2 separate regions of the Homo sapiens genome follow, and region 1 is linked to region 2. The links come from fine-mapping of genetic effects on gene expression. A gene starts in region 2. The other region holds a variant in brackets. All regions are shown on one strand. Distances are from middle to middle. Region 1 overlaps LRRC3C (leucine rich repeat containing 3C). Region 2 holds the start of CACNB1 (calcium voltage-gated channel auxiliary subunit beta 1).

The links. PIP is the estimated chance that this variant, and not a neighbour inherited with it, causes the effect.
Region 1: its variant is fine-mapped to the expression of CACNB1 in whole blood (INTERVAL, PIP 0.94).

What each region holds. Positions count from the first base shown.
Region 1 is chr17:39,934,575-39,945,787 of GRCh38, reverse strand. LRRC3C (leucine rich repeat containing 3C) reads right to left here. Exons shown (of 4, transcript NM_001195545.2): 2 at 9,894-9,986; 3 at 4,239-4,345; 4 at 789-1,855. The coding sequence starts at 4,264. The coding sequence ends at 1,054. Among named protein-coding and RNA genes, the nearest start is that of LRRC3C, 12 kb to the right of the region's middle. RefSeq lists enhancers at 7,282-7,331, 7,342-7,461. The variant A/TA (reference allele first, on the strand shown) is at 4,439.
Region 2 is chr17:39,191,636-39,202,848 of GRCh38, reverse strand. It overlaps CACNB1 (calcium voltage-gated channel auxiliary subunit beta 1), which reads left to right and starts at 5,180. Exons shown (of 14, transcript NM_000723.5): 1 at 5,180-5,437; 2 at 7,879-7,965. The coding sequence starts at 5,354. RPL19 (ribosomal protein L19) reads right to left here and starts at 2,566. Exons shown (of 6, transcript NM_000981.4): 1 at 2,500-2,566; 2 at 1,530-1,636; 3 at 410-532. The coding sequence starts at 2,504. It overlaps LOC124903996 (a long non-coding RNA gene), which reads left to right and starts at 1,635. Exons shown (of 2, transcript XR_007065745.1): 1 at 1,635-1,944; 2 at 2,051-2,694. RefSeq lists silencers at 4,883-5,012, 5,023-5,422, 5,853-5,982 and an enhancer at 9,496-9,996.

The DNA of each region.
Region 1 (11,213 bases), 740 kb before region 2:
CAGATTCTCAGAGACCTAAGGCAAAATCATTTCTAGCAGTTTGAACTCCCTTTAGTCCAATGGGGGAGGCAGTCCCTCCCTTTGGAATAAGCTCCCCGGGTTGCCTCTCGCTTTGATGCCCCTCACTCTGTAGGAGACCTCAGTCTTAGAGTTGCGCTCTCGAAGCCTCTGTTTGTGAGCCCAATTCAGGAAAGGGTGGGGCTTCACTCCCCCTCAGCTGGGGGCTCCCTCAGGGTACCCTTGGCTTTCTCTGCCACTCCAGGCCTCAGCTCTGTAGGGCAGGAAGAAGCTGGTGGTGGACGGGCTGTGTGGGCCTGTAATCGCCCAAGGGGTTCACGTTGCGTGCTGCCTTGGGTGATCCACCCACCTGAGTCAGTTCGGGCCTGGCGCGCTCACGCCTGTAATCCTAGCACTTTGGGAGGCCAAGGCGGGCAGATCACGAGGTCAAGAGATCAAGACCATCCTGGCCAACATGGTGAAACCCCAACTCTACTAAAAAATACAAAAATTAGCTGGGCGTGGTGGCGCGCGCCTGTAGTCCCAGCTACTCAGGAGGCTGAGGCAGGAGAATCACTTGAACCTGGGAGGCAGAGGTTGCAGTGAGCGGAGATCCTGCCACTGCACTCCAGTCTGCTGACACAGTGAGACTCCATCTCAAAAAAAAAAGAATCAGTTCAAACATCCTACAGCGAAGCCTTTGAAATCGCCCTGGGCCAGGTGCAGGCTCCCTCCTCAACCTGCCCCCCCACAGCCCCTCCTCCCTTGCTCCCACCCCACCTGCTGTCATTCTCTGTTATGGGTTTTCTGAGTCTAGCACAATCCAGGCACAGAGTAGGCACCAAAAAACTCCAGGCACCAAAGATGGTGTTGGTTAAGACGACACAGAGAGAGAGAGAGAGAACCAGCACAGGTATTTAGGGGGAATAAAGGAGGGAGGGGTGGGATGGGCTTGGGGGCAGGGGTGAAGCTGCACAGGAGGCAGAGGGGGTCAGAGCAAAGGAGAGGGCATAGGGGCAGGAGTGTGGGGTGTGGCTGGAGGAGCATCCTGGGTCATCAGACCACTGTGCTGAGGATGGAGGAGTCCTCGGAACGCACGGGCAGCACTGGGGCCCGCTTGAGGGAGCGCCTGGTCTCATCTCGGTTCTGCCACACATAATGCACCAGATAAGCCACCATGAGTGTCAGCCAGCCCCCCATGGTGACCAGCAGGGCCACATCGGTGCTCCTCCGGGCCCCACCCCACCCCGACCCACACAGCTCTTCCTCCCCTGCCAGCAGCAGGAACTCCTGCCCCACGAGGTCCGGTCGGGCTCCTGAGCCACACACGATGCCTGTCCCAGTGCCCGGCACCAGCCTCACCTGCCGGAGCACTTCCTGGAGGGCGCAGTCACAGTGCCATGGGTTTGCGGATAGGTTCACTTGGATCTGTAGCCCCACAAAGGCCTCCACGGGCACTGAGGCCAGCTGGTTGGCAGAGAGGTCGAGGTGGCGCAATGTGCCCTCCAGGCCCTGGAAAGCCGCCCCTGAGAGGTGGGCAAGGGCATTATGGGACAGATCCAACTCCTCCAGGACAGGCAGGTGCTGGAAGGCACCAGCAGGCACCGATGCCAGCTGGTTGGCATCCAGGTAGAGCTTGCGGGTGTCATTGGGGATGCCGGAGGGCACAGCACTGAGGCCTGCCTGGCTGCAGCGGAACGTCCGTTCACCTGCTTCCTTTGCCACATAACAGCCCCGGGGAGGCACCTGGGGGCTGGGCACAGTACCCCCTGTGCCTATCACCAGCAGGAGGGGCAGGAGGTGACCTGCTGTTGGGAGCATGGCCATAAATTGGCATAGTCCTGGAGTGCAGTAGGATCTGGGGAAGGAAAGGCCACATAAAGGAGGAGTGAGTCAAGAGAATCGCATGCCCCACTGCCAGCTTTCTCCTCCCGAGGTCCCTCTGGGGAGTCTTTTTGGGCTGGGGCCTCTTCTCTGGGGGCTTCTCTCAAGCCTGGGTGACTTTTTCACTTCCTTATTGGGGTCTCTCTTGATTTAAGTCTCCTCAATAGGGTCTTTTGGGTAAAGGGTCTCTTGCACTTGAAACTCTTTTAGGGTCTGTTGATTCTAGAAGGTTAATCTGTGAGGCCTTGTTGGTCATTCTGGGTCTGGGGGTTTCTAAGTTTCTGCCTCTGTCCATGTGTTGATTTCTCTCATTGGAATAAAGTCTTCTTCCCCTACCTACCTGGGTGGCTGCCAAGTGGGCTAGGTAGGCACCAGAGGGTCTGGTTGGCACTCGCGTGATGGAGACAAGGGGACGGATGAGCGACAGGGTGTCAGGGCATCCAGCTAGGCCAGGTGACTAGGTAAAATAGACCTCTGGCCCCACCTTCTATGCCCATCTACCCCTTTTCCGGGAGCATCCACCCCTCTGCCTGCCCCAGCTCTGTCCTCTCTGCTCTGTACTTCCTCCCTCCTCCTCCCCGTCCTCCTCCATTCCTCTCACCCCTGTTGGTGGCAGAGCCTTCTCCAGTGCAGATGCCCTGTCCCTGGACGTAGGCTCCCTGCTGCTGGGCTCTGGAGACCCGCTTCCTCCTCCAGAAGCCCTGTTTGCTCGTAGCTGCTGGAAGTTGGGGGCTGGGACCCAAGAGTGTTGGGTTTCCTGGCATGTGACTCTGGGCCCAGGTGTCGGATACCTGAGCCATGGTGTGGCCAGGCAATGCCAAGAGAGGGCAGATCCTGGACCCTGATGAACTCTGTTGTGGGGAGACCAGGACCCAATTCCATTCCCTGCACCAGGCTCCCCTCCCAAGGCCTTGATGCTGCCATCTTCCCTCACTCCCCAAGGCTGAAACTGCTTCCCAGAACTCCTCTTCCTTACCCAGAACCTGGCTGGGCAGAAGGATCCCTGCTTGGCAGGCCTGGCGGGCAGAACTGGGTGGGCCCCATCTCACATCCAGTGTCTCCAGCAACCTGTATTCCCCCAACTCCATTCCTCTCCCTACTCCCTTCTGCCATTCTTTCACGCCATGGCACATTCTTCCATGCTCGGTGGCCCCTTCTTCCACGGTGAGCAAACTTCCCCTAGTCTTTCCTTGGAAAACATGTCTGTCCAGGGTTCCTCATTTCCTGGCTCCTCGCAGTGCCCAGACCTCCTGCCTGCCAGGGGTGCTGTGGTTCAATTTCAGTTTGTTCTCTGCGTGGTAGATTGATTGCTTCTCTAGGAGTTGGAAGGAGTTCTTTAAGGCACCTGAAGCCTGATGTGGTCATCTCTGAGTTTTCCTGCTGATTTTATGATCTGGATGAGAACTGACTCAGGTTCTCTCAGTTTGCTAGAGCCCTGGACTCTCAGGTTGGCACTTTGAACTCTCCCTCAGGCCTGGGCACCAAAGATGGCTTGGATGACTTGTTCCCCCAGGGTGTCCCTATCCCAGGCATCATTTGCAGGCCACGCCACTCCGTGATACCACCCTCTCCTAATGTTCACTGGGTAGTGGGAAGGAAGGATTTCAAGGCAGAAGATGAGATTAGTGTGTGACCTGGGCATGTCACCTGACACTGCTGCAGGGTTGGGAGGACCCGCCAGGGTTGAGTGGATGTGAAGGTACTTTGTGAAGTGCTGTGCAAAGGCTAGTTGTTAGGATTACTGACTTCCAGAACACATCATGGTCTTCCTCCATGATTTCATTACCCACGCCAGGCTTTTCCCCTTCACCTCCTCTCGTATGCTGTGCAGGGGCAGAGGTGACAAAGGGTCATAGATGTGATCCATGTGGATGACCCATCTCATTCCTTAGCCCATGGTGGCTTATCCCCTGCAACTCCCTTGACCCTCAAGTCCAACCACATGGTGCCTCCTATGGCACCATCCTACCCACACTATCTCCAGTTCGGTGCTGGGATTCAGAGCCTCAATGATTGATAGAGCTCAAAGGAAGGGACCAGCCAGTTGATCCCTCCTTAGTTTGCAGACCGGTAAACTGAGGCCCAGAATGTGACCAGAGTTACACAATGAGTCAGTGGCCAAAGACCAGAGCCCAGTTTTCTAACTCCTTGTCCAACCACTTTCCATTGCCTGCTAGCAGCTCTTACCTCTGTGCCTCTCTGCCACACATACCAATACCCTACATCCTTGCACGTTGAGCCTGATGGTACCCACGGTATTGTATTGTACGGAACCTGGAAGCCCTCCTGCCAGGTCAGAGAGGTGGAAGAGAACAGGAGAGTGGGGTGTCACAGAGACTAGGGGTGGATATACTTACACGAAGGAAGATGAGGTCATACGCATTGGAGACCTTTCTGAGAAGGATTTTTCTTGCTGGATTTTGGAAGACTATGGGTGACCAGGACTGGACACGGAATTGTAGAGCTGAGTGCAAAATAAAAATGGGGTGTGTGTGGGGGGGTCCCTTGTTTCAAAAACCTGTTAAGAATTTCTTCCTTTTTTTTTTTTTTTTTTTTT[A/TA]GATAAAGTCTCACTCTGTGGCCCAGGCTGGAGTGCAGTGCCACAACCTTGGCTCACTGCAACCTCTGCCTCCCAGGTTAAAACGACTCTCCTGCCTTAGTCTCCCGAGTAGCTGAGACTACAGGTGCCTGCCGACCAAACCCGGCTAATTTTTGTATTTTTAGTAGAGACAGGGTTTCACCATATTGGCCAGGCTGGTCTTGAACTCCCGACCTCTAGTGATCCACCCACTTCGGCCTCCCAAAGTGCTGGGATTACAGATGTGAGCCACCACACCCAGGTGAAAACTTAAGAATTTCAAGGCCTTGCCAGGTATGGTGGCTCACGCCTGTAATCCTAGCTCTTCGGGAGGCCGAGGTGGGTGGATCACTTGAGGCCAGGAATTTGAGACCAGCCTGGCCAATGTGGCGAAACACCATCTCTACTAAAAATACAAAAAATTAACTGGGCTGAGGTGGCACACACCTGTAATCCCAGCTATTTGGGAGGCTGAGGCACGAGAATCACTTGAACCCAGGAAGCAGAGGTTTCACCGAGCCTGGGTCGTGCCACTTGACTCCAGCCTAGGTGACGCATTAAGACCCTGTCTCAAAAAAAAGAATTTCAAGGCTGGGTGCAGTGGCTCATGCCTATAATCTCAGCACTTTCGGAGGCCAAGGACCAAGGAGCCTCATGAGTTTGAGACTGGCCTGTGCAACATAGTGAAACCTCGTCTCTCCAGAAAAAAAAAAAAAATTGTCCAAATGCACTTTCTACAAAAAGAAAAATAAATTAGCAGACCATGGTGGTGCATACTTTAGTCCTAGCTACTCGGGAGGCTGAGGTAGGAGGATGGCTTGAGCCTGGGAAGTGGAGGCTGCAGTGAGCTGTGATTGCACCACTGCACTCTAGCCTGGGTGACAGAGTGCGACTCTGTCTCTAAAAAATAAAAATAAAAAAGAATTTTAAGATGACGACAGCAGCAGAGTGTAAAACCAAGTGCAGAGCTCTTGTGAGCACAGGGCATGAGGTCTTGTGGGACCTCGTCAGCCGCATGCCTGTGAGGCTGGCCCTGTAGGTTACCTTTGAACAAGCAGTTTCAGAAGCATGATGGGGACCAGACCAGATGGTAGGATGCCAGATGATATCATCTCTGAGGATGTACTCACCACAGACTTATTCCTGTGATGTCAACAGGGGAATTTTGCAGACTCACATTTGTCTAAGGAATCAGATAACTTTCTACACTTAGGCAGGAGAAGCAACAAGCAAACCTTTTCTCTGAGGGCCGGACACTCTGCTGCTGGCTACTTGGTGTCCATTTCGGGACTGTAGCTGAATGTGGGACAGAAAGCTGAGCAATCCTCCCTTTCCCCCTGTTCCTCTCTCACACTGGGCAGGGGCTTTAACTGAGGCACAAGAATTGAGCCTGGCTGTTGATGGAGGGTTATTTCCTTCTAAGACTAGGGCAGCTTCCAGGAAAAGAGTGGAACTAGGGTGTCCAGCACAGCAGCTGTGGGAGAAGCAGGAGCCCAGCTGGAGCTGCAGATGTGGTTAATTAAGGGAGTCTGAGTGCAAACTCGGTGAAGGAGGGAGATCTGGGGGGAAGGAGGAACCACACTTAGGACAGTGCACACTGCCCACTAGGGGCTGCAGAATTGGAGCAGAAATTCTCTGCCATCCATTTATTTGTTTATTCATTCAGTGAGGATTTCCTGTGAGCCTTATGTGCTAGTTGAAGGGGACATAGACAGGGTTCTTAAGGTGCTGGGTCTATGGCAGGGTTCTCAAAACACCCTGCACATTCAAATCACTTGGGGAGCTTTTACAGATTAGTTATGCTGGGGCTTCATCTGGACCAATTACATTAAAATCTCTGTGCATGGGGTCTAGGCACTGGTTTCTTTCGAAAGCTCCTCAGGTATGTCTAACGAGCAGCCTGAGTTGAGAATTGATGGTCTGGAGGGAGGCACAGACATGTCTCCACAATGCTTTGATGTGCTGCCTGCATTAATTGATGTTTGTACAGGGAGCTGTGAAGCACAGAGAGAGAATAAGTATTAATAACATGGCAGAATCATCCCTTCCCTCCTACTACCAGATTAACACACATGGCTTTGGGAGTGGCAATGCACTCAGTCCTTGATGATTCAACCTGATTGATCTCAGCCCATCAGAAATCCTGTTGCCTACTTCTTCAATCTCCTTTGCAGCTGAGGGTGGCCCAATTCTGGTCAATGACATCTAAGCAGAAGTCCGCAGAATAGGTTTGTGGGACAGTCTTTGATTTGCTGGTAAGAGAGGATAGGGCTGGGCTCTGCTCCTCTCCCTACCTTTTTTTTTTTTTTTTTCTTTGAGATGGAGTCTCTCTCTGGAGTGCAGAGTCTGGAGTCTCTCTCTGAGTGCACCCAGGCTGGAGTGCAATTGCATGATCTCGCTTCACTACAACCTTCACTTCCCAGATTCAAGTGATTCTCCTGCCTCAGCCTCCTGAGTAGCTGGGATTACAGGCCTGCATCACCACACCCAGGTAATTTTTGTATTTTTAGCAGAGATGAGGTTTCGCCATGTTGGCCAGGCTGGTCTTGAACGCCTGACCTCAGGTGATCCACCTTCCTTGGCCTCTGAAAGTGCTGGGATTACAGGTGTGAGCCAGTGCACCAGCCTTTTTTTTTGAGAGAGGGTCTCACTGTGTTGCCCGGGCTGGAATGCAAACACAGCTCACTGCAGCCTTGACCCCCTACCAAACTCAAGCAATCTTCCTGCCTCAGCCTTCTATGTAGCTGGGACCACAGACATGTGCCACCACAACCAGCCAATTTTTTTTTTTTTTTTTGTAGAGATGAGGGTCTCACTTTGTTGCCTAGGCTGGTCTCAAACTCCTAAGGCTCCTGCCTTGGCCCCCTGCAAAAAGTGCTGGGGATTACATGCGTGAGCCACCGTGCCTGGCCCCTACTTTGAACATGAAAGGGTCAACTCAGGCCATCTCGTGGCCATGAGACAACAAAGCATAAAGGGAGGGTTGAGTATTACTGAGATGTTGGCCTGGAAATCGCTGAGCTACTCAACCAACACCAGCAACTGCCACCTCTAGACTCAATACGTGAGAAAGAAAACCCCCTAACTTCAGTGCTTCTCAACTTGGCTGCACACTGGTATATAGGCAGTTTTGAAAACTGCTGATGCCTGGGTACACCCATGTGGCATGTGTCTGGTAATGGAGATTTTTTTTTCTTGTTGAGACAGAGTCTCACTCTGTCGCCCAGGCTGGAGTGCAGTGGCACCATCTCGGCTCACAGTAGCCTCTGCCTCCTGGGTTCAAGAGATTCTCCTGCCTCAGCCTCCCAAGAAGCTGGGATTACAGGCACACGCCACTATGCCCAGCTAATTTTTGTATTTTTAGTAGAGACGGGTTTTCTCCATGTTGGCCAGGCCAGTCTCGAACTCTTGACCTCAGGTGATCCACTTGCCTCAGCCTCCCAAAGTGCTGGGATCACAGGAGTGAGCCACCGTGCCTGGCCAGGTGATGGGAATTTTCAAAAGCTCCTCAGGTGATTCTAATGGCAACCTAGGGTAAGAATCATTATTTGGGTTTTCTGTTGATTTCTGCTGAGAGCATCCTTAACTGTACACTAGCTTTTCCAGGGTATAATCAAGGAAGGCTTCACCAAGGAGTGACATTTGATCTGGGCTTTCAAGGCTGGGTTAATCAGGTGGAGAAGCAGAATGTGCAAGAGCAAGGGAGCATGAAATGGCTTGGCTTCCAGATCACTGCGTGGATGGAGGGGGTGGTGGCAAAGGCCAGGGGTAAAGAAGTAAAAAGGGAGCAGATCCTTGTGGCTTGCACGCCATGGATGCATTGGGACTTGATTCCGTGGCTTATGGATTAAAAAGGTTTTATTTAGTTTTTATTATTTTATTTATTTATTTTTTTGAGACGGAGTTTCACTCTTGTTGCCCAGGCTGGAGTGCAATGGCATGATCTCAGCTCACTGAAACCTCTGCCTCCCAGGTTCAGGCGATTCTCCTGCCTCAGCCTCCGGAGTAGCTGGGATTACAGGCACCCGTCACCACACCCGGATAATTTTTGTATTTTCAGTAGATACGGGGTTTCACCATGTTGACCAAGCTGGGCTTGAACTTCTGACCTCAGGTTATCTGCCTGCCTTGGCCTCCCAAGGTGCTGGGATTACAGGCGTGAGCCACTGCGCCCGGCCTATTTATTTATTTTTTTTAGACAGAGTCTCACTCTGTCACCCAGGCTGGAGTGCAGTGGCTTGATCTCGGCTCACTGCAATCTCTGCCTCCTGGGTTCAAGCAATTCTCCTACCTCAGCCTCCTGAGTAGCTGGGATTACAGGCGTGCACCACCATGCCCAGCCAATTTTTTTTATTAATGTTATTATTTTTTTAATAGAGACGGGGTTTTACCATGTTGTCCAGGCTAGTCTTGAACTCCTGACCGCAAGTGATCCTCCAACCTCAGCCTCCCAAAGCGCTGGGATTACAGGTGTGAGCCGCTGTGCCAGGCCAAATTTTTATTTTTATTTTTTTCGAGACGGGGTCCCACTCTGTCTCCCAGCCTGGAGTGCAGTGGTGGCATCACAGCTCACGGTAACTTCAACCTCCCCAGGCTCAGGAGATCCTTCCACCTCAGCCTCCCAAGGGATTACAACCAGAGGTGCATGCCACCATGCCCAGATATTTTTTTTTTTTTTTTTTGTATTTTTGTGTAGAGATGAGGTTTGGTCATATTGAGCAGGCTGGTTTCAAACTCCTGGGTTCAAGTGATCCACCCTCCTCGACTTCCCAAAGTGTTGGGATTACAAGCGTGAGCCACCGCATCTGGTCGGATTGAAAGGTTTTAAAATTAGATTTGATGTCTGGATCACTCTGTTGGTTGTGTCGGGGATGTATTGGTGGCAGGAAAACCAGTTATGGCAAAGGTCTAGGTGTGAGATGATAAAGACCTGAGGGACACATGGCATGGGTCTGGAAAAGCCATCACCGGGGAGTCTCACGCTCTGTCTTGGCCTGTGAAGTGCCTGGGAAAATTCTCGGGCTAGGCCCAAGACCAGCAGATGTTTATGCCACGGGGCACATCCTTTCTGTTTTCTGGACCCTCACAGTCTCTGAGATCCCTTCTAGCCTGATGCTCCACGTGTCTAGAATGGCAGGCAGGGAAGAGACTGAGGCATGGCAGGGCCCTGGCTCCCAAGTTCAGGGCTCAGGAAAGTGAGCCTCTTAGCCTCCCACCCTCGGCAGTCTGAGTCACAGCTCCTCCCTCCAAGGGTGGTAACTCTATATCCCCAATATGTGACCACAGGGGAAAGAAGTTCAGCAGGCCTCCATCCCCTTCCCTCCCTGATGTTGGAGACCTCCAGGTCCAGCCTGGATGGGGGGATAACTGAAAGGAAAAAGATAGATAGATAGGTAGGTAGATAGATAGATAGAGAAGATAGATAAGGAAGGGCTACCTTCTTTATCAGGTCAGCCAGGGACCCGTCTAATGCCAGGTTACTGGGCAGTTTCGCGGAGAGGGCAACAAAGGCCTCTGCTATTGTTGTTCCCTGTAGAAAAGAGCAAGGGGTGTATACATACACTTCATGCTGCCATGCTTGGAGATACTGTCTCATTTACTTAACACATATCTGAGCATGTACTGTGTACCAGGGCCTCTTAGGCATTGGGGATTCAGAGTTGTTTTTTTCTTTTGTTTGAGACAGGTCTCGTTCTGTCATCCAGGCTGGACCACAGTGGCATGATCACAGCTCACTTGCAGCCTCAACCTCCTGGGTTCAAGCCGTCTTCCCACCTCACCCTCCCAAGTAGCTGGGACTACAGGCGCACACCACCACACCCAGCTAACTTTTGTATTTTTGTGTAGAGCCACCGCGCCTGGCTGAGAACTAAATGTCCCCCAGCCAATGAGGGAAGACTGGTGTGTGCACAAATATAGCCCTCCGATCACCTAAGGGAAGGCTTGGGTTGAGGGATCCGCCAGGGTCACAGCAGCCTGGAGGATGAAGCAGTGGACTCTGCTTGGACACTGGGGAAGGCTGCACCGAGAAGGTGACAGGTGAGGTAGGCCTTGAGGGGTGTATAGGAGTCCATCAGATGGAAAAGGGTACGAGGCTGAGGCAAGAACAAGGGAGAGCTGTGTGGCTGTGGTCTGGGACGTGCAGTTCTGTCAGAGGCGTGTGAACCAGAGCAACTCCGTCTTAAATAGAAGCTGGGTAAAATGAGGCTGAACCCTACAGTTAAGGCATTCTAAGTCACAGGATGAGATAGGAGGTCGGCATAAAATACAGGTCATAAAGACCTTGCTGATAAACCAGGTTGCAGTAAAGGAGCTGGCCAAAACCCATCAAAACCAAAATGGCAATGAGAGTGACCGCTGGTGGTCCTCACTGCTACACTTTCAGCCGCGCCATGACAGTTTACAAATATCATGGCAACGTCAGGAAGTTACCTTAAATGGTCTAAAAAGGGGAGCACGAATAACCCACCCCGTGTTTAGCACATCATCAAGAAATAACCATAAAAATGGGCAACCAGCAGCCCTCGGGGCTGCTCTGTCTGTTGAGTAGCCATTATTTTATTCCTTTACTTAATAAACTTGCTTTTACTTTGCACTGTGGACTCACCCTGAATTCTTTCTTGCGTGAGATCCAAGAACCCTCTCTTGGTGTCTGGATCGGGACCCCTTTCTGGTAACAGTTCCGTTACATAGTTCAGTTAACATTTATTGAGAATTCACTCTGTTCGGGAAATGCAAATGTGAGACAGGGAGCAAG
Region 2 (11,213 bases):
CCAGATGATGATCCCAACTACGTAAGTTCTTTCGTTTACTCAATTTTAAAGGAAGCACAAATACAGCAATAATTCCCCATTCACTTCATGCAGAATGTGGGTGTAACAGGCAGTGCACCAAGGCAACACAGCACGTTGTAAGGAGCTTCCTTCGATCATTCTGAAACTAGAAAGTACAGAATCCTTGGCATAGTGTAGGTAGGGACTTAGTAAATGTGACCTCCTACCAGGGATACTCTCAATTCCAATACCAGCACCAACTTTCTGATTTGCACACAGGCAGAAAACACATCAAATATCAAGGAGTAAGAAACAGGCTCAAGATGAGACAGAGTGCTTAGATCCTGAATATATTTCAGCATAGATGCCAGCACCTATCATTTCTTAAGGAGAAGATGACCACACTTACCTATGCCCATGTGCCTGCCCTTCCGGCGGGCCAAGGTGTTTTTCCGGCATCGAGCCCGGGAATGGACCGTCACAGGCTTGCGGATGATCAGCCCATCTTTGATGAGCTTCCGGATCTGCTGACCTGGGAAAGCATAATGCACCTGGTCAGTCAACTGGGGCCCAAGCACATCACAGAGTCCAAATAGGCCAGGCCAGAGACACTGCTCACATTCTTGGCCCCACGGTCTCAAAAAGGATGGAAACACTGGAACTTATTTCTTGCCTTCAAAAACCCAAAAAACCTCTATCTTTTCTTTTTCCTTCACAAACAGAGGTTGTGAGAAATACCCTTTGTCTTTGAGACAGTCTCCCTATGTTGCCCAGGCCGGTCTTGAATTTCTGGGCTCATGATCCTCCTGCCTCAGCTTACCAAGTAGCTGGGATTAAAGATGCCTGCCACCATGCCTGGCCATTTCTACATTTTAAATATATGAAAGCACACTCAAAAGAACAAGCCTGATACAATGACTCCTCCATTTTATAGACACTCTGAATGAACTTTCCTAGGTTTGTAACAAGTCAACCCAGGCTAGGTGTGGTGGCTCACGTCGATAATCCCAGCACTCTGGGAGGCTGAGGTGGATGGATGACCTGAGGTCAGGAGTTTGAGACCAGCCTGACCAACATGATGAAACCCCATCTCTACTAAAGATACAAAAATTAGCTGGGTGTGGTGGCACGTGCCTTAGTCCCAGCTACTTGGGAGGCTGAGGAAGGAGAATCGCTTGAACCTGGGAGGCAGAGGTTGCGGTGAGCTGAGATCCTACCACTGCACTCCAGTCTGGGTGACAAAGTGAGACTCTGTCCCAAAAAAAATAAAATAAAATATAAAGAGTAAATTAGCTGGGTGTGGTGGTGCACACCTCTAATCCCAGCTACTCAGGAGGCTGAGGTGGGAGAATCACTTGAGCCTGGGAGCAGGGGTTGCAATGATCAGATGGCACCACTACACTCCAGCCTGGACAACAGAGCAAGACTGTCTAAAAAAAAAAAAAAAAGTCAACACAATTGTGTTATCATTAATCTGACGCAGGAGAAAAGAAGGAAGTAGGGTGAAGAGACAGATCCCAGGTACTCACGGGAGTTGGCATTGGCGATTTCATTGGTCTCATTGGGGTCTAACCAGACCTTCTTCTTGCCACAGCGGAGGACACTAGAGGCGAGCCTCTTCTGAAGCCTGAGCATACTAGACACACAGAAAACATGATTAGACTCTGAAAGCCAATCCTGGGCAAGAATGAACGTCCCCATCAAGACCTGCCCTTTGTGACCCACACCACAGCCGCGAAATAAGACTCTTCCCTAAATCATCTTTAAGGCTCTGGGCTATGCAGCTGGCCCCCTTGGGTTTAAGACTTCAAAACCCACGCTATGCCTTCACCTCTCGGAGCCTCATGTTCGCATTTCTCCTCTGGAAAGTCAAGCCAAGGACTTATTGGATTGAATAGGGGGGTTATGCCATTTCTGGTACTCAGCGTTTAAAGAATATTCGAGGTGAGTAGACCTGATTTCTAGTCTAGGAATGCAGGCAAGTTACTCTGTTTTCTGGGCTTATTTCCCTGTTTTATCACAGTAACAAGCCTCGTTCGGCTATTCGCAGAGATTTCCTTTATGAGAGGCCAAAGGAGTGAATGGAGTCAAGAGTTAGAGATCACCTCTCTCGGCAGTCGGAGGCCTGGGGCCTACACTAGGCTTGCCCTACATCACGTGAAAGCAGAGATCGGCTCCGCTCCGGGTGTGCCAAGCAAGAAAGGGCCCACGGCTTGGTCTTGTTCGCTCCGTTTGCTCTGCTCGCGTGGGTCGACCGGACACGTGTGCGGTGCGGCACCAGCCGGGGCAGACTTTTCCTGGTCTCAGTTGCTGCGACGCTCCCCGCCCCCCCTCACTCCGGAGGCCCGGGACGAAAGTGCTCCGGCCTACCCCAAACCCCGGGACCGGCCGCTTTAGGGCGGCCTCCATTTCATCTCCCCCAACCCCAGCTGCGGTCCCAAGACCGACAGTCCCTTGTCGACACGCGTCAGCGCCTGATGGAGACCAGCTCGCCCTCACCTCATGGCTGCGGCCGCAGCAGCGAAAGGAAAGAGCTCGCTCGGGCCCGGCTCCTCCCATTATCTGCGAAGGGGAGAGCCCAAACCCTGCTCCAATTTCGTCCGTATTCCTGTCCGGTTCTTTCATCTTCTGCCACACTAAACTCACTCATAGCCTCCATATAGGCCTGAAATGATAAAAGTCAAATATCAGAAATCGGTTTTAAACTTAAAAACATAAAAAAGTACCCCTTCCGTAGGGAAAGTGGTATAGTCCGACTTCCTACTAGACATGCGCAGCAAGGGTTCCCAATCACGTGGTTATCTGTAACCGGAAGTCAGCTGGATTGCGCAGGCGGAGTGAGAGAGGTTTTGCTAGAGTGGCCTGGTGTTTGCGGGCGTTCGGGGGGTTGTGGGTGGATGTTTTATTAGCTGAGAAAAAATCAGTTAAAGAAGCGAGAGAGAATGACAACAGATATCAGACAAAGGCGAACTCTTATTCACTCTTGTAGTAGATTGAAAACCCCTGGAGTGCAGAATCGATCACTAAAAGATGTTAGTGTTTTTACGCCACTGCGGGTCTTGCAAGCTCTTGGAGGGCGGGAACTAGTCTCAGTCTCATTTGGCTCACAACTGTACTGCGGCAGGCATGGATCCGCGATCGAACACACCTCAGAAATACCGCACTGGCTGAATGGATGAATGATTGCAGAAAGTAAAATTAAAAAAAAAAAAAATTGGGTTGGGCTCGATGGCTCATGCCTGTAATCCCAGCACTTTGGGAGGCCAAGGCAGGCGGATCACTTGAGGTCAGGAGTTCGAGACCAGCCTGGCCAACATGGTGAAACCCTGTCTCCACTAAAAATACAAAAATTAGCCGGGCGTAGCGGCGCGTGCTTGTAATTCCAGCTACTGGGGAGGCTGAGGCAGGAGAATCGCTTGAACCCAGGAGGCGGAGGTTGCAGTGAGCCGAGATTGCGCCACTGCACTCCAGCCTGGGCAACAGAGTGAGACTCCGTCTCAAAAAAAAAAAAAAAGCAGTCCTTTTCTTCTGATCTGGAACACCCAATGTAAAAATCCAAGAAGAACATTCTGGGGTTTAAGAAGTCTACATCTGAATTGAGGCTCCAACTCATGATTGGTTCCTGCTGATCACCCTATCCGTTTCATCTCAACTTTCCTGGCTGAGAAAGTAGAAGAGAGAGAAAGGGAAGCAACATTTATGCTACTTCCTCACAACAACACGATTAGCGTTGCCCTCATTTTACAGCTAAGGTAACAGATTCAGAACACAGATATTTCTGATTGCAAAGCCCATACTTTTGCGGTTATGCCAGCCTTTCTTGTCTCCAAGGGGCAGGTGGAAACCCTGCTCAGGGTTGGAACTCTCCTGGAACGTTTCTAATGGGCTTCATCTTCACTCACTGCTCCGCCTTCCCCAAGGTGTTGTGATCAGAGGAATGACAGACTGACCATTCACTTGCTATTAGAGTTGGGTGAGGAGGAGGAGTCCCATAGTCTCCTGTCCTGCGGAACACAGCAAGGTGGTGGCCTTATTGTAAGGTCACTTGACCTGGAGAGGGTCTTCTCCATCTCTCCTTTCTGTGGAGCAGGAGAAGGGGTGGAGTAGGAAGGGAATGGGTCCTCCTGTCATGAGTGACCCCTTCATTGAAACTTACAGCTTCTCCAAACACCCCAGCAATTCATTTAATTCTCCCTCATCCTCCCAATAATACCAGGTGACACAGACTCCACAGTACCAGCAACCCCATTTTATAGGAGAGGAGGAAACTGATGCTCAGAGAGGTGATTTGTCCGGGGCTATACAACCAGAAACAGCCTGAGCCAAATTGGCGCCAGAGTCTATTGCCCAGAATCTCCTATTCCTCTTCTCTCCACCAGTCATGGTGGGTGGCATCCAGATCTTGGATGTTTCTCCCTAAATCAGGGGTAAAGGTGGCGCAATTCTAGGTCAAAGGTCATGAGATCTGATTTTACCAGCTTCTCCTCTCTCAGCTCCATATTTCTTCCTCTTTTCTCATCCAAGAGCAGGGACCTCACCCAGCCCCATTCCTGGCCTTTTGGAAGAACAGGGGTTGGGGGGGCGGTGTATCCTAGTGACTGATTAGGGCAGAACTCCTGGACCCCTGGGATTTATTTTGCTGTCTCTATTGGACACCCTCCCCATCTCAGCCTCAGCCTCCCACCGGCAGCCCCAGAGCCATGTTGGAGGGAGAGGCTTTTCTGTTTGGTTTGAGGCAGCCTGGGCCCCACACTGGGGAGAAAGGAGTTAAAGCCAGGTCCCAGGATCACCGGGACCGGGAAGTTCCGGTGGTCCAAACAGGAGTGGGTTGGGGGGACCCGCAGGAAGAGAGGTTTGGGACAAAAGGGGGGTGGTGCCAGCCATGCCAATCCCCATCAGCGCTCGGCATCCACTGGTAGACCGCCCCCCCACCCCTCCCCCAAGTTCCACGCCTAGTTTCTGCCTTCCCGCCCCAGCGGGCCGCCTGCACCCCACGGCCAGTCAGAGGCCCACCTGCGGCCACCTAGAGCCGAGAGGGGCTTGCCTCCCTGCTGCCGCACGCCCATTGTGTGCGCCGAGCCGGCGGAGGGGCTGCGAGGGGCGGGGCCGGGCGGGCGGAGGGAGGGAGCGAGGGAGGGGCGCGGGGAGATGCTGAGCCTACGGGGGAGGCGGCGGCGGCAGTGGAGAGAGCGGGAGGAGCGAGGGAAGGCAGGAAGGAGGCAGCCGAAGGCCGAGCTGGGTGGCTGGACCGGGTGCTGGCTGCGCCGCGCTGCTTTCGGCTCCCACGGCCTCTCCCATGCGCTGAGGGAGCCCGGCTGGGCCGGGCCGGCGGCGGGAGGGGAGGCTCCTCTCCATGGTCCAGAAGACCAGCATGTCCCGGGGCCCTTACCCACCCTCCCAGGAGATCCCCATGGAGGTCTTCGACCCCAGCCCGCAGGTGAGGCGTGGTGGCCCGGCCCAACGGGAGGGGGTCGCTCCCGCGGACCGTGTTAAGGTCGGCTCGAGAGGCGCGGGAGAGGAAGGGGTTATATGCCGGGCGCGGAGGAGAGAGGGATGCCTGCGCGCCCCCCATCCTTGCAGGTTGTGATTGATGGGCGCTGGGCCTGGGGCTGGGTGGCGATGCTGCGGAGCGGGGAGGGGGCGGGTGGGCTGCCTGTCACCCTCGCCTCCTTATCTCCCCCGCGTCAAGGTTCCTGCCGCTTGGGCACCAGCTTCAGTGGGCTGAGCGTGGGGGTGCTGGTGGAGGGGGATCTGGGCCTTGAGAAGGGGAGGTTGAAAGAGGCTAGAAAGCGAGCCAGGCAAGGGGGGCGACGCAGAGCACGCTCGGGGGCGCCAGGCGGGTGTGGGTGGGGCGGGGGTGGCACGAGGAGGTGGCCGAGGCGATGGTCAGAGGGCGGTGCCAAATGCCAACAGGCCTTCAAAGCCGCAGACACTGGTTCTCGAGGGTGGGGAAAGAGCCAACCCCGGTCGAGGTCCCCTCCCAGCCACCTGGGCTCCATCTCTATGTCGGACCTGCTCCCCTCCCCCCACACCCACGTTGACTTACCCCACCCCCACCCCCGCCCCAAAAACGCCTCCAAAGTTTGGAAAGTTGGATGGATGCCAACTCATAGGAGGGGGGGAAGCTGTTTTACCTGGGGGAGGGGTCTACTTCTCCATCCCCACCCGCACACTTTTCCTACACCCCTGGTTACTCCCAGGAAGTGGCATTCTTGGGCGCGGTGGGTTCTCATGGGGTGACCAGCAGGCTCTGGGATGGTCGCGCCAGGGGATTTCTTTGGGAGTGTCCTTCTCCAAGGATAGCATTAACTCTTCTGTTACTGTGGCCACCAGCTGTAACCACCATGATAATGTGACTGATGGGTATGTAGAGGGGTCAAGTCAGACCTAAAAATACCTTCCTCCACCCCAGGCCCCTTTGAGCCTGGGAGGCAGCTGACTGGGGCCTTCCTTTCAGCTGTCCCCTGTCCCTCTGAGTGCCACTCCCTTTGCCCAGCCTGGCAGTGGTGGGGGAGGGTGGTGTCTGGGATTCACTGGGTGATCCTCCTAGGTTTGTAGGGAGCATCACAACTTGAGTTGGGGTATATGTCTGGTTTGAGAGAAGGGCGGGGAGGGGAGGATCTTGGAAAGGTCCCCAGGGGCCCTCCTCTCCCATTTTCCATCCTCTTTCTTGTACCCTGATCCCAGCAGCCAAAGCCCCCAGTCTGGTCATGGCCCCTCCAGGTTCTTTGGCCAAAGAAAGTCTAGGATGGAGACCAAGGGCGGGGACTTGGAAGTCTGAGCCCTCACTCACTCTCCCCATTCTGAACTGGGCTGAGGCCAAGTGTGTGTGGGTACAAGCTGGGGAGGGCCAGAAGCAGCTCTTCTTACAAGAGGACTGGAAATACCTGACGCCCTTAACCTGAACGTGTGGCTTCCTGAATGGTCAGGCGGTATTTCCTCCACCCGGTCTCTGAGACTGAGCCAGCTTACCCCCTAGAGATCTGTGGGGCTGTGTCCTAGGCTCATGTGGTGCGGGGCCGAGGGACATTTAGATTGACGTAGCCTGATGGGTACCATGGGCATGGGGCATGGGCAGTGGCAGCTGGGGGCCACAGGGTAGAAGCTTGATCCCTCTTGCCCCCTTGGGGAGGATTGTAGCTACTGTGATTGTGAGAGAGGGAGCTGAGAAAAAGTCCTGTCTGGGCAAGGGATGAGAGTGGGGAGCAAAATTTGCCCCCATGGTGCCAGGGATCAGGCTGGATGTTTACTCTCCAAATACAGTTCCATGCCCCTACTCCCTCCCCAGAAATCTGGCTCTGAGTCTCCAAGAGAGCTGTCATCCCCTCCCTACTCTGTGAATAGCGAAGGGAAGAGTTGGGCACAGGGGAGAAGCCAGGCTGGGCCCTGGGTTGGCAGTTCCTCCTCTCTGGGGGCCACCAACACAAACAGCCCTGCTCTGCTCCTGCGGAGGGGGAGTGGGGGTGACTTTCCCGCTCTCCCCACCCAACACCCAGCACTGCCGGCTGCCTCTCCCTTCCTCGGAGGCCTCTGCAGCCTGCCCAGCATCTTAATTAGCTCTGCTGCCTAATGAGCCTCCAGCTTCTCCGCGCCTCCCCCCTTCCCAGCCTCTCTGGCTTGGTTTGGTGGTTTCCGTGTGGGTCTTCTGGGGCTCTCTTGCACTGGTCCCCACTCCTGGCTGTGCTCTGGGCCCTCTCCGTGAGGATGGGAGACCCTCCCTCCCCTTGGGTCGTACCACCTCAGGAGGAATGTGCAGGGGGGTGGAGGTGGGGCTGGGAGTGCTGTTCCCAAGCTTGGCTGTAGCTCTGGGGCTGGCAAGATGAGGGTTGGGAAAGGGCCCTTCTGATTCTACTCTTGTTCCTTTCCTGGCCTCTTCAGGGCAAATACAGCAAGAGGAAAGGGCGATTCAAACGGTCAGATGGGAGCACGTCCTCGGATACCACATCCAACAGCTTTGTCCGCCAGGTAATGGGGAGGCTGGGCGGAGAGGAGGGAGGTGGCTGGTTGGTGGAGACCAGCATTGGTGAGCCAGGTCTGCGGTATTGTCCAGGCACCCTTCCCTGTGCCATTTGTCACCTGCCTGGAGCCACCCCATCACCCTGACACCCCATGACCTCTTCTGGATGTGCTGTCAGCGGCACCCACTCGCTCAGCCCCCGCCCCTGCCCGGCCCCTCCCCCAGCACCAGGCACCCTCCCCTGCTGCCTGCTGGCCTGCGTCATCTCATTCAGGGACAGCCTGGCCTGCCTCCCTCCAGCTTGCTTCGGGCTGTCACCCACTCCCCCTGCCGGCTGTCTGCTTCCATGTCCTCCCCCAGAATCTGTGACAGGGTTGGGTGGAGGCAGGTCCTAGGAAAAGCAGAGCAAGGATGTTTGGGTCCCTGTAGTCCTGGTGAGGTCCTGGCCAGGGAAACACGCTCCTCACCTCGAGACATGACTGTCTAAGAAGCACAGAGAAAGGGTGATGGTGACGGGGGTGGGGGTGGTTGAGGCATGAGGCTGTTGATTTTATAATAGAGAAGATGATAGCCCAGCACCCCTGCCTGAAAGGGTGTAACTGAGAATAGCTTTCTGGGGTCTTCTGTGCTCAGTCAGTAAGCGGCTGCTCTCATCTGTCAACCCTGGGCCATCTTAGGCTCAGGGTGAGGGACTGAGAGAGGCATGTGGTTGCTATGACTACTTAGCATCTCACCAAAGCCTGGTACCCAAAAAAGGCGAGAGGGGCTTGGGATTAGACAAGGAAAAGGCGTGTATTGAAGAGGAAATGGGCAGGGCATTTGAGGGCAGAAGACAGCACAGAGGAGGGGTCCTCTGGAGATGAGCCCCTCCCTTCCACCTTGGGCCAGGAGCGAGGGTGATGCCAGGCAGATCCACCACTAATTAGAGTGAGGCCCTTCTTTCCGTTTCTTCTGTCTCTACAGCACTTGGCACATGTGAGCCTCAGTCTGACTTGGGAGGTTCAGGAAGGGGAGGCTTCATTCTAGCCTTTTCTAAGTATAGGAACAGACAGGAAGTCCTTTCTTCAATCACCCCCTCATCCCTCCTGTTGCAGGACATGGCCAGGGCTGGGAAGAATGACGCTGTGCTTTTATTGCCCCTCTTGGCAGAAAAGGACCTTGGCTCCTTCAGTGTTTGCCAACCCAGGGAGTCAGACCCCAGCCTCCAATTCTTCCTCCTTTTAGCTCCCCAGCTCTGATCCCCGGTAGGTGGTGGGGAGTGGTGGAGGGGGGCAGTCCTTGCCACATCTCTGAGCTAAATATACCCTAGCAGTCTGCACATGTAGCAACTCTGCTTGTAACCCGAGCCCCCAAGGGAACGGGCAGTTTGGGCCACCCCCTAGGCCAGCAGGGCCAGGCACTGAGGGTGCCGGGATGGAGGCGCCCAGCCGGACCGTGGTGGTGGTGAGCTGGGGATGGAGTGGGGTGGCAGCGGGTAGAACAGCCTCTCAGGAAAGCTGACGGAGGGCAGCCTTTACTCCAGCGTGTCTCCATGCCTCCTCACTGTTTCCTGTCTTCTGCCATTTCTGATGTGTGCGTGTGTATGCGCGTACATGTGTCTGCATATGTGTGTGTATGTGTGCGCATGCCTACATGTGTGTCTGTGTGCACCTGTGTGTCTGCATATGTGTGTGTGTCTGCCCGCACATGTGCGTCTGCATGTGTGTCTGTGTGTGTGCATGTAACTGTGTGTGTATGTGTACACGTGCGCGTGCCTGCATGTGTGTTGGGGTCAGTGAGTGTGTGCGCGCGTATGCCTGCATTTGTGTTGGGGTTGGTGAGTGTGTGTGTGCACGCGCATGCCCGCGTGTGTGTTGGGGTCGGTGAGTGCCTCTCTGCTAGTCTGTCTCCCTGTCTGTTTCCCTGGCTCTTTGACTCTGCGTGCTCCCATCAGGGGGGAGAGGGGGAGCTACGCTGGTTTTCTCTCCTTCTCTCCTTCATGCCTCTTTCCCCACTTCTGTTAGTGACCCCCGCTCCACCCCAACCCTTCCTCCGCGGGTCTCCCATTTTCATTATTTGTCTGGGAAAGAGATGGGCAGCTGCACCAGCTAATGACCTGAGGCCCCTGGGGAGAGGTGGGACTTTGTTTCTGTCTTTCCCAGGTCCCCTCCATGCCAAACTTATGGACCTTCCTGGCCAAGTGACCCTTTTCTGCCCTCAGGAAAGAACCCCTACATCCCTGCAGTCCTCCTCTTTTGCCACATAACCTCCTATGCCTTGTCCAACACCACCCCTGCATAGTCACACAAATCCACACCTCTTGCCTCCTGCCCTCACATGTCCCCCAACCTCAGGGTCACAGATGTCTGGGAGCTCCCCCCCAGTACACTCACATGTGGCTGTACACACACAGTCATATGCAGCCAACTATAGAGCACACCCTCCTCCACACACTTGTACTTGCACATCCACACACACACATGAAGAAGCACGTGCATTCCCACTACCAGGTCTGTACGGGCAACATGTGTCTTACACATATGTGTGCATCCCTAAAGGAGTCCCTTGTGCTCTGGGTTGGTCATTGTGGTCAAAGCCAGCTGTCTGGCACCCAGCAGCCCTCATTTCAGGGAAAGCCCTGTCCCATATCCTGCTCTTAACTTGCCTCTTCGGTCTGTACCAGCCTGGAACTCTTGGGTTCTCTTGTGTCCTAGGAGAGCCTGAGGACTGGGGCTGTAAGTAGTGAAGTTTGATTCTGGCAGTACCAGTTAAGAGGAGCAGGGGAGGTAGGAGTCTGTCTCCCTCTACCCTTGAACAGAAGCTGGCAAAATCTGTGGTGGCCCCATCCTGCGGAGCAGGCCGTCCACGGCTGATAGTGCAGAGAGCTCAGGCCGAAGCTGGTGGCTGCAGTCCCTGGAATGGATGCCACTGGACCTCAGCTGAGTCTATCTCAGCGGGTGCTGGGGGCAGGGGAGGGAAGGAGCAGTGGGAGTAGAGACTCGTCCCTGGCATTCCTCCCTTGCCTTGTGCCCCTATCAGGTTCCCACCCCTCCCTGGGCCCCAAGCAGCTGTCCTTGGGCCTGCCTTCATCTCCTGCTTGCTGCTGTCACCCTCACTAGGGCCACACTTTCCCCAGGGGCCTGAGAAATCTCAGCTCCTGGTCCCTTCCACCTAATACCACCTTGTCTTAGCCCTTGTGGTGTCATGCTGGGCTGGCTGGGGCTCGAGGCATCCATGATGGGTGGCACCTCCATGCCTTCCCAGGCCCAGGAGCTGG